3 linked regions of the Homo sapiens genome follow. The protein of the gene in region 3 purifies or fractionates together with the protein of the main gene of each other region. This does not show direct contact. Each region holds a gene or a part of one and is shown on either strand. Other genes may lie near its edges. The genes, in order: MAP7, KCTD13 and OBI1.

Region 1 (3,654 bases), on a different chromosome or scaffold from region 3:
TGTGGGGTTAACCTACTTAATTAAACCTTAGTTTTCTCATCTGGACATGGAGATACTTTCCACACAAAGTATTGGGAGGTTCAGTGAAATGCTATCTGTGAAGGAGTTCCAAAAACTGTTGTACTATATGAATGTTACATATCATTATCTTTATCCTCCTAAAATGAATGCAGTGTCCAGAAAACACACAGTACACTAGGTGTAGCTGCAGTGTGATGTAAAATAATGCTTTTGGTTTGTTCCTGGTATCCCATCTTCTCCTGCCTAGCATTTTATTGGCTTTTTTTTGTTTTTTCGTTTTTTTTTTTTTTTTTACCATCAAAACACAAGGAGTCAGTATCACCAAGGAACAGTTTGCAGTGATCCCAAGATGTCTTAACCTCCATTGTGACTGATCATTCACTGTCTTTTAAGGATAGCTCAGCTGACAGTTTTCTAAACCCACTGCTTTTACAGACTGCCTGCCTTGTCACTCATTTCATGATTTTCCCTGTTTTCTCGAGGGGCTATTTTTATGACTTGCATTTCCAAGAATAAACATTATCTGCATACTTAAATTTTATCCTGCTTGTCTTCCGATTATTATAAAACTAAACCTAGCACTGATCCCTGGGGCTCTCTGCCACTTAAACTCTTCCATCTAGAGAAGGGCTTGCTTATTCCTGTCTTTATTTTGTTTTATTTTTATTTTATAAAACAGAGTCTTGCTCTGTCACCAAGCCTGGAGTGCAGTGGTACGAGCATGGCTCACTGCAGCCTCTACCTCCTGGCTCAAATGATCCTCCCACCCCAGCCTCCTGAGTAGCTGGGACTACAGGTGCGAGCCACCACACCCAGCTAATTTAAAACATATATATTTTTATAGAGATTAGGTCTCCCTGTGTTGCCCAGGCTAGTCTCAAACTCTTGGCCTCTGGCCTTAAGCAGTCATCCCACCTTGGCCTCCTGAAGTGTTGGGATTACAGGCGTGAGTCACCACGCCCAGCCTATTCTTGTCTTTAAAATCCATCCCCAAAACAGCTTCCCATTCATGAATAAACATTCCCTTTGATGCAGTGGAAACTCAGGTTTTTAAACAGTTTTACATCTGAAATTCTGTTAAAAACTTTAAATGACAAATCACATCCATAAATATTTCCTTTCACTCCTAGTTTCAAATCAACCTTAAAATGCTTATAAAATCTTTGGTTTTCATCTCAGTGCATTATTTTTAGTGAGGCATTCCATGATCCTTGTGATCAGTCAGTATCTTTATTAAATACCCTACTTTGCACCTCAAGTAGAGTTATAGATCCCTCCAGCTTGCCCACTGTGAATTAAATCACTGATTAATGGAAATGCTCGGGGTCCCTGCCAAAGAACATGGTGTGCCTGATACTCCATGAAAATCCATCATGACAGATCATGCAAGTATAGTGGTAGAATTTATTTTTGCTAGAAAACTCCACTGCTCAGAATGACTATCTTTTCATTCAAATTGAGAGAGAAGTATCACTTTTCCTAATGTCTTTAGTACCTAATATATTCGTAAATAAATGAATGCTGTGAACTAAATTACATTTGCTCCTCCCCACCTTGAGATATTTCAGCAAACTGTCTAGCAGCACCCCAGGAGGATGGCGACCCCCTAACATTACTTTTCCTAGCAGCTAGGACTGAGACCCTTTGTTATAGAACAACTCTGTACCAGAAGTATCCTGAACCCTACTCCTCACCTTACTCCTGAGTGAGACGCCTGGCCCCTTTGCCCCAAAGCCATTTTTCTTGCCCATCTCTTTTCCCCCTGACAGGTTCCCCACTGACATTAGTTAGAATGGAAGAGGGTTTGAGTTATCACAATTCTGGCCAGATTTTAAAGGTATACAGAAATATGTGAATATGCCAAGTGTGGTGGCTCACGCCTGTAATCCCAGCACTTTAGCAGGTCTAGGCAAGCAGATCACTTGAGCCCAGGAGTTCAAGACCAGCTAGCAACATGGCAAGATCCCGTCTCTACAAAAAATACAAAGATCAGCCGAGGGCAGTGGCATGCATCTGTAGTCCCAGATACGCGGGAGGCTGAGGCGGGAGGATCGCCTGAGCCCAGGGAATTGAAGCTGCAGTAAGCCGTGATTGCACCACTGCACTCCAGCTTGGGCAACAGAGTGAGACCCTGTCTCAAAGAAATATATGAATATATATTAATAACATATATGGATTTTATAAAATTTTATAAATGAATATATACATTTTCCTATGTAAGATATACGACGTTTATAAAATACTTGAAATATATCTTTATGAAATATATGAATATTATATATGCCCTTGAGCTGATCATTCTTACTCAAAAGCCATGTTTGGTTCTTAAGAGAGAGTACTTGTGGAGGGATGTTCCACAGGAATTGAGGAAAATATTTGTCCATGGATAGGAAACTTGCTTTGGAACAGGAAACAAAGGATACGGATCCATATGAATACAAGTCGGGGAGGACAGGGGTGAATATCAGAATGGGAACAGAGGAAGTTATCTGCAGTTTCTCAGGTCATTCTGAGATGTTCTTCTACCCCTAGCTGAGAATCTCTAGTCCAGAGGCTAAGAAGCTCTGCTGCCTATACAGATACTGCCTTACCCTCCTAATACTCCAGAAGACATTTCATGTTTGTTCATTGCCGTAGGGGAGCTGTCTTTTCGTAGAATGTTCGTCTTTTTTTTTAAATAAGAAGTTTTTGGTAATTTTGGTGTTTGACCCATTCATTTTCCCTCCAAATCTTGAGTTCATCATTGCTCTTAGTTTGGCCTGAAGGAAAAGTAACATTCCCAGGCCCCTATTGTTCACACAGGAAGAGATGTATCCCTTTTAATTTAAAAGTTACTTGTTTTAACATAATTAATAAATATCAAGAGAAAATAAGGTTCTGGCTTCCATAAGCTGTGTGGACTGCAGATTCTTGCCAAGGTCCCAACCCCTGCCTGTACACATTTTGGACTGGAGCAAAGCGTGCGGTCTTCAAAAGTCTTACATCAGTCTTCAAACTTCAGAAGGTAACTGAAGGCAGGGAATTCAGAAGCTGGTGCTCTTATTCTGAGTGGACACACGGATCCATACTCCTTAACCCCAGTACTTCAGTTTCAGTTTTATAGTTTCTACCAGTCCCGATGTCCCCTGAACATTTCATGACTTGTCATCCAATGCATATGGCACAATTATCCCTCTGATTGCCAGCAGGTAGAATGGGCAGGTGGAGGGGAAATGAAATCTGATACTGGCTCAAGTCTGGGGTTAGCCATTGCCATTATGACTTGTTAGTACATGCAGGCCTGGAAGGTGACAGGTTAAGGTTGCCAAGGAAAGGGGGCTCTGGAGATACGTTCCTGTTCTTTATCCTTTGCCAGGACTTCTACTTAAATTCTCTCTGTATTAAGAACCAAAATTGTTTCCCTAGTTACAGAAAGGCTGTTGGTGTTAGGCAAGAACAGGAAGATGGGTGTGGCAGCCCAGGCACTTAGAACAGTAGATGTTAGGCATGTGTGTGCACACGTGACTTGGGGGGGGGGGCATGTGCACATGTGTGTGACTGTACTCTTGTGGAGACTTATAATGCCTAGTGGCATTCCCTTCCCTTCTTAGTAAAATAGCAGAAAAGCATCATCACACTGTATAATATTTCAGA
Region 2 (3,654 bases), on a different chromosome or scaffold from region 3:
AAAGTGCTGGGATTACAGGCGTGAGCCACTGCACCAGGCCTATCAGTTCATTTTCTACACAGCAGTTAGTGTCTGACTTTTTCTAACTTTTTGTATTTGTTTATGATCTGTCTCTTCCCACCTAGGAATAACTACCTAGTATACAGCTGATGCTCTGTATTTGTTGAATGAATGAACATATTTGTTGAGTGAATGAACTTCATTGGGTGGGATGACGTTGGAGAAAGAAATCTGAAGCAAACCCATGGGCTTCTTTCTCTTCTGTCTTCTAGAATCTTCATGCCAAAATCCCTCTCACTTCTCCCAACCTTGAAAACTCAATGCGCAATTCTAATACAAATTCCAGATTTGTTTTTTGCAGAAACTCATAAGACTCTCTAAAATTAACAGAGAATAATAAAAGTCTACAATTACTGAGGCCATTTTTTTTTTTTTTTTTTTTTTGAGACAGGGTCTTGCTGTCATCCAGGCTGAGTGCAGTGGCATGACCACAGCTTACAGCAGCCTTGACCTCCTGGGCTCAAGCCATCCTCCCAAACTTAGGTCAGTTTTTAAAAATAAGAGCAAAGAGGAAAGGCCGACCCTGCCAGATATTAAGATAGGCTGCAAAGCCACAACAGTGAGAACGGTATCAGTTCGGGCACAGAAACAAAAATACCTGAGAAACACAACAGAGCGATCAGAAACAGACCACTGTGTATATGAGAATTGGTATTTTTAAAAAGACACCACAAATGTGCGAGGGGAATTACGGAGTATGAATTCGTTATCTATCACTGTGTAACAAACTGCCCCCAATTTAGGAGCTTAAATTAACAATATTTATTACTTCTGTTTCTGAGGGTCAGGATCTCAGCAGTGGCTCGGCTGGGTGGCTCCGGCACAGGGTCTCTTCTGAGGCTGTGGCCAAGATGTCAGTGGGGCTGTGGGCATCAAAGGCATGACCGCCCCTAGAGGATGCACTCTGAGAAAGCTTGTTCATGTGGCTGGCAAGTTCGCACTAGCTGCTGGCAGGAAACAACAAATCCCTGCCATGTAGATCTCTCCACAGGGTTGCTTGAGTATCCTCGCAGCATGGCAACTGGCTTCTCCAGAGCAAATAATTCCAGAGAGGGCAAGGTGGAAGCCTCATTGTCTTTTTTATTTTTGAGATGGAGTCTCACTGTGTCGCCCAGGCTGGAGTGCAGTGGCGTAATATCGGCTCACTGCAACCTCCGCCTCCCAGGTTCAAGTGATTTTCCTGCCTCAACCACCCAAGTAGCTGGGATTACCGAGGTGTGCCATCACGCCCAGCTAATTTTTGTATTTTTAGTAGAGACAGGGTTTCACCATGTTGGCCAGGCTGGTCTCAAACTCCCGACCTCAGGTGATCCACTCGCCTCAGCCTCCCAAAGTGCTGGGATTACAGACGTGAGCCACAGCGCCGGGCCCCTCCATTGTCTTTTATGACCTAGGTCTGTTGGTCCTATCCAGTGAGGAAGGAGATGACACACAGGAACGAGCACCAGGGGACGAGAATCATCAGGCTGCCTTGGTGGCTGGCTCCACAGGCCACCGCTGGCTCTCAGTGATTTCCCCCCTCCCACATGCCAAATATACTCACCACCTTCCAGGATCCCCCATCATCCCATTACAGCATCAGCTCAAAGTACAGAATCTCATCATCTCAGTCAGGTCCAGGTGGGGATGTGGCTCTAGCATGCAGTTCCGTAACTATGGCTCCTTAAGTGCATTTCTTTTTTTTTTTTTTTTTTGAAATGGAGTCTTGCTCTGTCTCCCAAGCTGAAGTGCAGAGCCACCACCATCTCACCTCACTGAAAACTCTGCTTCCCAGGTTCAAGTGATTCTCTTGCCTCAGCATCCCAAGTAGCTGGGACTACAGGCATGCACCACCATCCCAGCTAATTTTCTTTAGTAGAGACGGGATTTCACCATGTTGGCCAGGCTCGTCTTTAACTCCTGACCTCAGGTGATCCACTTGCCTTGGCCTCCCAAAGTGTTGGGATTACAGGCGTGAGCCACCGCATCCAGCCCTTAAGTGCATTTCCTATCTGCAGACCTGTGAGCTAAAGAGACAGGTCATCTCCACACTCCCAGTGTGCAGTGGTAGAGGCAGGCACAGGATAACCAGTAAGGACATTCTTGCTCAAAAGCAGGGGAAGCCGGGCGTGGTAGCGTGTGCCTGTCATCCCAGCTACTCAGGAGGCCAAGGTGGGAGGATTACTTGAGCCCAGGAGTTCGAGACCAGCCTGGGCAACATAGCAAGACTCTGTCTCAAAAAAAAAAAAAAGTGGGGCAGGGGACAGGAGGCACATATAAGTCATACATATAAGTCACTGGTGTGTGGAAATTCTGTAATCCAGTTGGAGAAATGCTAGGAACTCTTTGATGCCTACTCCTGTTCATGAATGATTCTCCATGGCTCTCCCTGAGTCGTCCCACCTCTTCCATGAAAGATGTTTGCAGCTCCACAGTTTCATCTGCCTGCTTCCTGCCTGTAAAAGTTTGGGTGTGCAAAGCCGTCTTGTCCTTTTGCACTGGCTCTGTCCCTTTCAGTCCAAGCTGGCAGTGTCTCTGCCAATATAATTCTCTTCATAACTTATTGGGTATCTTGCATGTCTTAGGGTTCACTACATTAGAAAAAAGCCACACCTAGAAATCTCTGCAAGTGGCCAGGCACAGTGGCTCACGCCTGTAATCCCAGCACTTTGGGAGGCCGAGGTGGGTGGATCACCTGAGGTCAGGAGTTTGAGACTAGCCTGACCAACATGGTGAAACCCCATCTCTACTAAAAATACAAAAATTAGCTGGGCGTGGTGGTGGGCACCTGTAATCGCAGCTACTCAGGAGGCTGAGACAGGAGAATCACTTGAACCCAGGAGGAGGAGGTTGCAGTGAGCTATCTCAAAAAAAAAAAAAAGAAAAGAAAAAGAAAAAAGAAAATCTCTGCAAGGTAAGCCCTTCTCTACTTTGGGCTTGTGCTGAGACGCTGAAAGACAACACCTTTAACCTTCTCAGAAGCGTGATTATTATTTCATTCGACTGGAAGTCCCCTCTGAGGCATCTTGTTGGTATTTCTGAGGTCTTAACAAAGGACTTTTTCATCACATCCTCAGCTTGACCTTTAGACCACATTTCCCTGTATTTAATGCCTTGTATTTAATCTTTGCACGGAAGCCATTTGTTAATTTTAACATCACTTGTTATCTGGAAAGGCTGGGAATTTTCAAACCCAACAATTTCAGGCTCTTTTTCATTTAAGTGTTTTTTTTCTTTAACTTACTCTCTCCTCTTCAGTTTTACTATAAGCAGCAAGAAGCCAGGTGGCACCTTCAACATTCTGTCTGGAAAGCTCCTTAGCTAGACCATCCGTTCCTTAGGTATATTTCCTACCCTCCACACTAATGCAGGAGACAGTGTTGCTAAACTTTCTGCCGCTACACAAGGATCTCCTTTCCATCAGTTTCCAATAGCATTTTCCTAACTGTTCTTCAAGCCCTTATTGCAGCTGTCTTAAAGGTCACTGGACTCTTATTAACAGACTTTCTCACCTTTTTTCTTTTAATTTTTTTAGAGACAAGGTCTCACTATATTGCTCAGGCTGGTCTCGAACTCCTGAACTCAAGTGATCCTCCCACCTTGGCCTCCAAAAGT
Region 3 (3,654 bases):
ATTCTGTTTTAGCCATGCTAAATTTGTGATGCTAAGCCCATTTTTAAGTGGACAAGTTCAACAAGGCAGGTTTTGAGTCACTGCCATAAAAGACATGAGCATATAAGGCCATAGGACTGGAGGAGATCTCATGAATGGACAAAACAGCTGGAGAAAAGAAGGCACTCCAGCAAGCAAAGGAAGAGGAAGAGCAACCAGCAGAGGAAACTGACAAGGAGGGGTCCTGTGATGTAGGAAAGGAGAATATGATATCACAGAAGTCAAGGCAAGAAAGTTTTTCAAGAGAGAGGCAGCGGCCAGATAAGTAAAATATTGATGTGAGATTGAGTTTGATGTGCACTGAGATGTGACTATGGGATTTAACTGCTTGGAAGTCACTCTGATCAGTTACCGACAAGCACTGTTTCAGCGAATGTTGGGGATGGAAACCTGACTGGAGGTTGAGAGACAATGAAAGATGAAGAAGTGAAGACAGAAAATACAGACAATTCTTTCATGTTTTGCTGTAAAGGAGAGAGCATAAAAATGAGACGACGGTTAGGAATACCAATGGGAATGATAAAGAGAGGATATTAGTGATGGATGAAGAGTGATGGGGGTATTACAGCGATAGGCAACAAAGTCCCTAAGAAGTCAAGAGGGGAAAGGGATCCAAAGCACAAAAGGAGATTTTGGCACATACAGGAGTGAGGGTTTGTCTTCTTTTGCAACAGAAGGGAAAATAGGGGGTGTGTGAACAAACACAAAGGGGTTGGAAGATCTGTGGATGGAAAAATGAGGAAATTCATGTTCCCACTATCTCAGCTGCTTATCTTTTGTCATCAAATATGAGGTGAAGTTATCAGCTGAAAACGAGAAGGGAAGTGGGTTACAGATTTGAGAAGACAGGAGAATAAAGCAGTAATTTTGAAAAGTGAGAAAGCTAATTTACTAGGGATAGGTAGCAGATTGCTATACATTGTTGAGTTCCTTTTCCAGGTCTGTGGTTTCTAATGCAAAGTAAGATTAATTAACGTAGGTGTGTATTTTTCTTATCAATATTTAGCTGTGGAGACTCAGGAAGGAAGTAGATGAGTAGTTTGGTTTACCCAGAGTTGGGGTTTTGCCAAGGAGGAAGAGACAGGGACTGATGATAACAAATGACCACGAATAATAAGGGAAACAAGTACACAAGCGGTAATGATAACAGTGAAAAAGTGATAGGGTCAACAAAAATGTCTCCATGAGGTTGAAGTAATGGTAGAGAATAAGTATGATAGAAACAGGATCAGAGAGTGGGATGCTTATAGTCAAGATACTAAAGGTGGTATAACTGCCTTCTCTAATGTTTTGTTCTGGGCCATCTTATCTGATGTGTTCTATTTTCTCTCTCAATCTCATGTGTCACATGGCATTAACATCTATTCTATGCTGACAACTCCCAAGTCTCCCTCTGTAACTGGAGTCAGTAAGTGGCAGAGCTTAGGCTCTGACAGACAAACCTGGGGCCAACTCCAGTTCTGCCATTTATTGAGCAGTCTGACCTTGGGTAAGCCCTTTAGCTACTGTGGGCATCAGTTTCTGCCTCTGAAAACTGTGGCTTAACCTAGTAACCTTTTCATTCAGGTTTAAGATAATATAATGGATGTCAGCACAGACACTTCTACATAGCAATCCCTCAAAAAAAAAAAAAAAGGTAATATTACTATATCCAAGTGCCTAGGAGCCGACTACATATAAGGATCCTGCAGCTGCCTCAACCATAATTTGGCCTCCACTACACACTTGCTCCTCTTCCTGCACACCCTCCCACCTAAGTTAATGAGATCACTACTTCTCCACTTGAGCTACAACAGAGCTATCTCTGAATCACTCTTTTTACTTATCCTCACCATCCAAACTGTCACCAGACGCTGGTATTATACATTAAGTCTAAGAAGCCACAGATTTGAAGATTCACCAATATTTTATGTATCACTAAGAATGAAAAACTGTCAATTACAATTGTTAAGATACAATCAGATTCCAGAGATGTTATAATTTGAAAAAAAATGTACATCTCAGAATAGTCAAAACATGACAAATCTACCTCCAAACATTCTTTCACCTCTCATCTATCCTTTCCTTTGCATCTTCACCCCAATGAATTTAAGGTTCTCATTCTTTTGTCTTTGATCTACTGCAATGACCACCTCCCAAGCTTCCAAATGTTCATTTCAGTACATCTTTCACAATGATGCCAGAGCTACCTTCCTAAAATATGAATAAGCAGCTTTCACTCCTCTCCTACAAAACAGTAATGATTTTTTTCCTGCTCATAGTTCGAGGTATAGCCTTCAAAGAACATAATCTAATTCTTAAACAGCCATTTCCCTTGACCTACCATTTCAATATTTGACACAATGCACACTTCAACCTCACAGGTCTACTTATGTTCACCAATAAGAATATGAACACTGGGGGCTCCCTGTTTATGGGGCTCCCTATTTATAGAGCTTCCATTTCTCAGCTTGATATATCCTCCTGGTCTCTCCATCCTCCTGACAGTAATAAAAAAAAAATTCCTTCCCTCCTTTTAAGATGCAAATAAAATGCCACCTCCTCTGCAAGCCCTTCATTAATCTTTTTCAGAATTAACCAAGTCTTTGATAGGGCACTCTCTGTTCATTTATTTAATGTTCACCTCTTTCTGCATTGTGCTGTACTTAGAAACTGCTTACATCCTGTCTTCCTTATTAGATTTCAGGCTCACTGACAATAGGGTGAGTGTCCTTCTCATCTCTAACAACTGCAAGATTAATAAAAGTGAATTTTGATGTACTATAATGAAAGGCTGAGATAACAATCCTAAAAGTGCTTCAAGCAGCAAAAGGTCAACAGCCACTGTCAAACTGTAAAAAAGCAAAAGTTTAACCTCCCCATTTAATATGACAAAATGATACAGAACCACCACCACAGGCCGACTGCTTGGCTCTGTCTGCTAAGAGTCATTAACAATGTCACCCACAGGAAAGTTTTCTGCACCTTTGGATACCTGGTATTATCACCACCTTTGTGTTGGGAAGATTTCGGAAACAGGTGACTAATTCATTTCTTTGGAAATGAATATTGGAATGAGTATTTATCAGATGATGATTTCTAGACAACTCAATGAATTTATCTTACGAGAATAGAAATTTCTAAAGAACTACTAAAACAAGTTACTTGTTATATATTTGACTGTAATCTGTGGTAGCAAAACACAAAGAATCTAGCACCCATCCTCTTCTACCCAGATCCTGCTCTGGGTAGAACAAAACACACACATAATTTTCTTTAATAAGATCTTCCCAAGACAAAAAAAAAAAGGTCATCATTTGTCACATTATTAGACTTTCTATCCAATTTACTCTCAAATGAGACCCGTGGCAATAAAACAGTACTCATGAAATAAAAATGCAAGACAAAAAAATGGCAATGGTAAGTGACATACAATTCCAAACTCATCTGGAGTAAGCATAGTAAAGTGGTATCCTAGGGAGCGGTCCCCAACCTTTTTGGCACTAGGGACTGGTTTCGTGGAAGATAATTTTTCCACAGACTGGGGGGTTTCACCTCAGAACATCAGGCATTAGACTCTCCTAAGGAGCACACAATCTAGATCCCTTGCATGCACAGTTCACATTTGGGTTCATG

What was found.
Region 1: the proteins of OBI1 (region 3) and MAP7 purify together in Homo sapiens (affinity purification with mass spectrometry, with the first as the bait; one large-scale study listed by BioGRID). This does not show direct contact.
Region 2: the proteins of OBI1 (region 3) and KCTD13 purify together in Homo sapiens (co-immunoprecipitation; one large-scale study listed by IntAct). This does not show direct contact.

What each region holds. Positions count from the first base shown.
Region 1 is NC_000006.12:136,347,897-136,351,550, reverse strand, and holds part of MAP7 (ensconsin), read left to right. Parts: intron 1-3,654. UniProt on the Homo sapiens protein: Microtubule-stabilizing protein that may play an important role during reorganization of microtubules during polarization and differentiation of epithelial cells. Associates with microtubules in a dynamic manner.
Region 2 is NC_000016.10:29,912,700-29,916,353, forward strand, and holds part of KCTD13 (BTB/POZ domain-containing adapter for CUL3-mediated RhoA degradation protein 1), read right to left. Parts: intron 1-3,654. UniProt on the Homo sapiens protein: Substrate-specific adapter of a BCR (BTB-CUL3-RBX1) E3 ubiquitin-protein ligase complex required for synaptic transmission.
Region 3 is NC_000013.11:78,649,085-78,652,738, forward strand, and holds part of OBI1 (ORC ubiquitin ligase 1), read right to left. Parts: intron 1-3,654. UniProt on the Homo sapiens protein: E3 ubiquitin ligase essential for DNA replication origin activation during S phase.